2 separate regions of the Homo sapiens genome follow, and region 2 is linked to region 1. A link means that fine-mapping ties the variant in region 1 to the expression of a gene that starts in the linked region. Tissue or cell type: prefrontal cortex. Region 1 holds a variant in brackets; the other region holds the start of a gene. All regions are shown on one strand. Distances are from middle to middle.

The links. PIP is the estimated chance that this variant, and not a neighbour inherited with it, causes the effect.
Region 2: it holds the start of ITGA8, and the variant in region 1 is the best candidate, but not a certain one, in a credible set for the expression of ITGA8 in prefrontal cortex (ROSMAP, PIP 0.67).

Annotation. Positions count from the first base shown.
Region 1 is chr10:15,656,185-15,659,097 of GRCh38, forward strand. It overlaps ITGA8 (integrin subunit alpha 8), which reads right to left. Exons shown (of 30, transcript NM_003638.3): 10 at 2,815-2,871. Among named protein-coding and RNA genes, the nearest start is that of ITGA8, 62 kb to the right of the region's middle. The variant C/CTTTTT (reference allele first, on the strand shown) is at 1,325.
Region 2 is chr10:15,718,283-15,721,195 of GRCh38, forward strand. ITGA8 (integrin subunit alpha 8) reads right to left here and starts at 1,640. Exons shown (of 30, transcript NM_003638.3): 1 at 1,281-1,640; 2 at 484-617. The coding sequence starts at 1,489.

The DNA of each region.
Region 1 (2,913 bases):
ACAAGAGAAGAGTTAGGTAAGATTTACGCTTCCTGCTTCAGAGGAAGCATAAAAAGTTTTCATGTCGGGGGAACCCACATCTCAGTATCAATTTGTATCGTGCTCATAGTCAACAAAAGCTCCTAAATCTTTTCCATGAGTGTACACAGTGTACCATAGTCTCCCCACTTTTTTATTTATTTATTTATTTATTTTTTGAGATGAAGTCTCGCTCTGTTGCCCAGGCTGGAGTGCAGTGGTGTGATCTTGGCTCACTGCAACCTCCACCTCCTGGATTCAGGCAATTCTCCTGCCTCAGCCTCCTGAGTAACTGGGATTACAGGTACCTGCCACCATGCCCAGCTAATTTTTCTATTTTTAGTAGAGATGAGGTTTCACCATGTTGTCCAGGCTGGTCTTGAATTCCTGACCTCAGGTGATCCACCCACTCGGCCTCCCAAAGTGCTGGGATTACAGGTGTGATCCCCCGCACCTGGCCTCTCCCCATTTTATCGCTGCAGTTTTTCTTTTTAAACCTATGTTTTTGGATTTATAATCTTTTCAGGATTTATGCTCTCACCAGATTTGACCCATAGTTTCAGGTTGCCAGTTTGCTTCCATAGTGTGCCATGCAATGTTTGAAGTGACGTAGCTTCCATCGTGTCCTCATTTAATGAACATGCAATCCCTTAGAAAGCACACGCCCCAGGAGGCAGAGACTTTGGTCTGTTTTGTTTGCTGTTCTATCTGAACTTTCTGAGCAGTGTCTGGACCAAAGTAGGTGCCAGGTGCCAAATGCTCTTTGCAGAGAAAATGAATACATGAGTTAACAAGTGGCATGTAACAACTCAATTCTCACACCTCTTTTCTCTGTTCCAAACATAGATAGTGAAATTCTTTCTCTTGATGTGGTGGTGTGTGGCCTTTACTCAGAGGAATTTCATCATTTATGAAATTTCATCATTTATCACCTTCTGAGGTTCAGGATTACAGAACTAGGTGGTATTGAGGAGAGGAAGTTATAGAAAGACTAAATTTAGCAATGTTTAAAAAGTTTCTAATGATGAAAAGTAAACAGATCTGAGCAAAGGAGAAGCATTGCTAGATTCTCATTCACTTATTAATTACCACCACTTAGGAATAGTTGTTTCAAACAGTTCAATATCTATTCAACTTCCCGCTCATCTCAGTCTTATTTCTCCAAACCTTCCAAAAGAATATCAGGAGATATAAAATGCTTCGCTGAAAATTTCAGAGTAATAGACTAAAGCCCCAAATTACAGCAAAAAGATGTCAAAATCATTTTGTTTATTTTAAAACCTGCTGGTTTCTTTTTCTTTTCTTT[C/CTTTTT]ATTTTTTTTTTTTTTTTTTTTTAACAGAGACAGTGGTCTCACTATGTTGCCCAGGCTGGTCATGAGCTCCAGGCCTCAAGTGATCCTCCTGCCTTGGCCTTCCAAACTCCTGGGATTACAGGTATGAGCCACATTTCTTTAAATACTGAGTTGGTGCTTCCGTCTAAAGGAAGCCAGTTGTGAACTGAATTTGTTTCTCCAGGCAATCGATTTTTCTCTCCTCTTCAAATTTAATTAACATGGTTAGTTTTAAATGTATTACTTCCACAGCTTTGTTCATATTTAGTTTAAAATTAAGTGCGTAGTTCTGTTTGTAAATAGTCACATATAAGTTACAAACACAAGGAATTCATTTATTTTAAATTTGTCCTGCATTCAAACATGGAGGCCTGAATCTATATCTTACTGAAATAGAGATGCAATAGTTTATGATCATCATAAGCACACGTATTCGCATGCATCTCAAATTATAGAAGATTTAATGGCACATGGGAATTTAGTGGCTTTTGTTTGATCAAAAGGCAGGAGACAGGAAATGGGATGGAAAGGAATTAACATTTCTTGAGGAGTTGTTATGTGCCAGGGAATCTTCTAAGTAATCTACAATCCTTGATTTATTTCATTCTTAAAGGGAGCTTGGAAGATAAACATTTTATTCTTATTTTGCCAAGTGGCTCAAAGAGGTCAGATGATTTTCCTGTGGTCTCACACAGTTCATGAGCGGTGCGGTGGGAACTGGAAGTCTAATCTGTCAGCTGCAGAAGTCCAGGCCCTTTTTACAGTGACCTTCTTCCCATATCTTACATCAAAACCTTCAGGCCTTTATAGACTATTGAAAGATTCATGTTAATACGAAACCACTTCCCATTGTTCTTAGAAAAAAATTCTTAATCCCAAACACCGCCCACCTCCCCCACCAGTCTCCCATGAGTAGCCCCTGTCCCCTCCGTCCTCAGCTCCTACATCTCTCTTGCTTACAGAGACTGTGGCCTTCACTCTGCTCTTCACACATGTCTGGCTGGTTCTTGTTTGAAAGCCTTCTTGTTAGCCTTCCCTTGCCTGGAAGGTTCTGGATAAGATGGTATAGTTGGCTCTGTCTTGTCATTCACATCTCAGCCCAGACATTGGCACCTCAGAGGCCTCCTGATCACCCCATCCAAAGGCTTCCTTGCCACTTCCCTCCTGTCTTATATCACTCAGCTTTATTTTCTTTAAATCATGGTTCACAATCTGAAATTATCATGGACATTTATTTGCTTGTTAATAAACTGTCCCTTCCTCTCCCTCCCCTGCCACCTCACTGCTGCCTGAGAGCTGGATGGGATCTGTCTGTCTGATGCATGATTGCATCCCCGGTGCCTAGGACAGTTTCCAGTACGTAGTAGCTGCTCATTAAATATTTGTCAAATGGATGAATAACTGATATGAATATTATAGTCTACTGGTAACCCAGAGTGATTTTATTTATTTGATATTAAAATGTCTCTACCTGTTCTCCCGTGAAATTCTGAATAAACGTCATATCCGTAGAGTTAATGATGGAAACCTGAAATCACAGAAATTAAACAGGTTACACCATTTGCCATAG
Region 2 (2,913 bases), 62 kb after region 1:
CTTTCTTTCTGTAAAGAATTAAACAGCAACGCGGAGTGATGTCTGGGTCTGCAGCAGCTAAGTCCTGCCTCCCGAGCTTGGGCACTGGAAACGCTAAGGATCTCTCTTTTTCCAGATCTGTCCTTGAGAAGCAACCAAATTCTCTCCACAGTCAAAGTTAGGACATAGTTTTTGTATTTCTCCAAAACATCCACTCACCCTGAAAATGCTCATCTCAGAAAGGTAAAGAAACAGGAGTTGCCAGGATGCATCCGAACACTCAGGGTCAAAATAGTGTCCTTTCTCTAGGGTTCACTAAACGTCTTCCTTCAGTTAACTGAGAGTTGAAAAAACTGATTTCTCTAGAGACCCACATAGCCCACAATACGGACATATCAGACAAGCTAAACGAGCAGCACACCAAGACAGCGGGAAGTCGCCTCTGGGATGGCCCTGGTTCTTCCAAACCCAGGCCCACAGCTTAGAAGGACAAATCTCACTTACTGGTGGTGTCAAACGGTATCTGCCTGCACTGCGCAGACCCCTCCGCGGGCCAAGGACAGTAATAGACGGCTCCCCCTTCCACGATATCGGGCTGGCTGGTGTTGGCTTTGGGCGCCCCCACCAAGACACTCGCTCTGCAAAAGAGTTGGAGAAAGTCACTCTTTGGGCGCCACAAAACCGTGCGCATGCAATGCAGTCTCTGTAACCTCCTGCCCGGGGACACTGGGGCAGGCGTGGAGGGCATGAACGTATTTATGATGAGGACCGACTGTCAAACTTGATTTCCTCTTGGAAACGGGGGTCCGCAACCTGGTTTGCAAGAATGCAAACGGTCCTGCTTCTCTAGGTGGAGCTCTGTGGGTACAGTGAGATGAGAGAAGGGGGTGGGGTAGGAGGAAGCCAAGGACAGAGCCCAGCTGCTGGTAGCCGACAGCTCTTGCGCCCAGACGCAATGGTTACAGACTCTGCATAAACAGACCTCGCTGTGGTGGCGGTTTTAACTGGCTTGGGTCTTCTGGGTCCTGTTCTCTCCTTTGTAGGATGCGTGCGTCTTGGTACCTGGAACACCCAGGACTTGCGTGTTCTATGCAAGTGGCATGTCTCTAGCTCAAAATTCACAAGGCACATCTAGCATGGCAGGGGAGAGAAGGGGCTGGTGGCGGGGAGAGGGACGGGACCCCGGGCAGGCGGCAGGACGGGGATCCCAGGCTGCGGGGGGACTCCGCGGCAGAGCCGCTGGGACCTGACCCGGGAGCGCCTTCGTCCCCGCGCGCACCTCCCCGGGTCGGGCGACTTACGTGCGGGCGTCGGGTATGTGGAAGTCCACGGCGTAGCCGAAGTAGCTGCCCTTGGGGCCGCTGTACACTGTGAGCTTTTCCACGTCCAGGTTGAACGCCTGACAGGCGGGGGACCACAGCAACATCCCCAGCGCGGCCGCGGCGCAGCAGAGGGGCGCGATCAGCGGCGCCTGGCTTCCCCGGGGACCGCGGCTGGCCCCGGGCGACATCTCCCTCCGCCCCGGTGGGTGGCTGCTACCCAGGAGCGCGAGCCGAGGACCCCTGCGGGGCAAGGGGGGCTGGTGGAATCTGGCGGTCCCCAGCTGCCCGTGTCCCGGGTCGGTGCGCTCGGCGCACCCGTGGTGACAGTGCCCGGCGTCTGCTCCCACCCGCCCGCCCGCCCAGCCGGCTCGGGGGGCTGGCCCAGGGGCTCTAGCCCTCCTCCGGCCGCGGGCAGGGACCAGCTCTCTCGCGGCGCCTCCTCGCGGCTGGTCTAGAGCCAGGGACTCCCGGGCGGCCCAGCTGGTGGCTGGAGCGCTGGGTGCCTCTTCGGGCTGCCCGGATTTCTATTGCAGTCCCATCTCAAGGACAATCAGTTTCGTCTCTGTCACCTCAAGCTATTTATTGCTTTAGAAGCAATGCCCCAGGTGGAGCGAGAGCTTGCTCCAGTTGTGTCAAAGGCGCAGCTTGGATGGAGAATGTGAAAACCAACCCCACCACCAGGAGGGGCAAAGCAATTATCTCTTCATCACCTCTGCAGCCTGACCTCAGCGTTCACGGCTTTGCACGTCTGTGATGAGAGTTAAAGTTGAAATGCAACAACCCTCTCCTCCCCTAAGTCCACCCCACCTCCTGGCAGAGCTAACTCATATACAAGAAAGCCTCGAGGGTTTTTTTTTGTTTTTGTTGTTGGGTGTCTGTGTGTGTGTGTGTGTGTGCGCGCGCGCCTGTGTGTGTGCATGTGTGAATTTTTTGTTTTTGTTTGTTTGGTTGGTTTGCTTTGTTTTATTTATTTTTTTTTTCTTTTTAGAGATAGGGTCTCTCTCTCGCCCAAGCTGGAGTGCAATGGTGCTATCATAGATCAATGAAATCTCAAACTCCTGGGCTCGAGCGATCCTCCTGCCTCAGCCTCCTGATTAGCTGGTACTGCAGATGACACATCACACCTGGTTAATTTTCTAATTTTTTTTTGTTGACACTGAGTCTGCTCATGTGGCCTAGGCTGGTCTCGATCTCCTGGCCTCAAGCCGTCCTGCCACCTCGAGTTGACTTTTAAAATTTCTTTTCTTTCTTTGTTTCTCTTTCTTTCTCCTTCTTCTTCTTCTTCTTTTTTTTTTTTTTTTTTTTTTTAAGGAGATGGGGGTCTCACCATGTTGTTCAACATGGTCTTGAACTCCTGGACTCAAGCGATCCTCCCACCTAAGCCTCCCACAGTGCTGGGATTTCAGGGTAAGCCGCCTTGCCCAGCCCTTGAGATTTTATTTAAATCTTTCTTAAAGGCATCTTGGGCATATTAAATGACTTAGTAGTAAATCTCCATCCTGTGTAATTGTGATGAAGTTTGGCGCAGTTAAGAATGTTGGAATTTACAGTTTACTTTCTGCGGGGGTAGAAGGTGTAGTTCACAGTCTACAGGAGTTCAGATTTCGGTTCT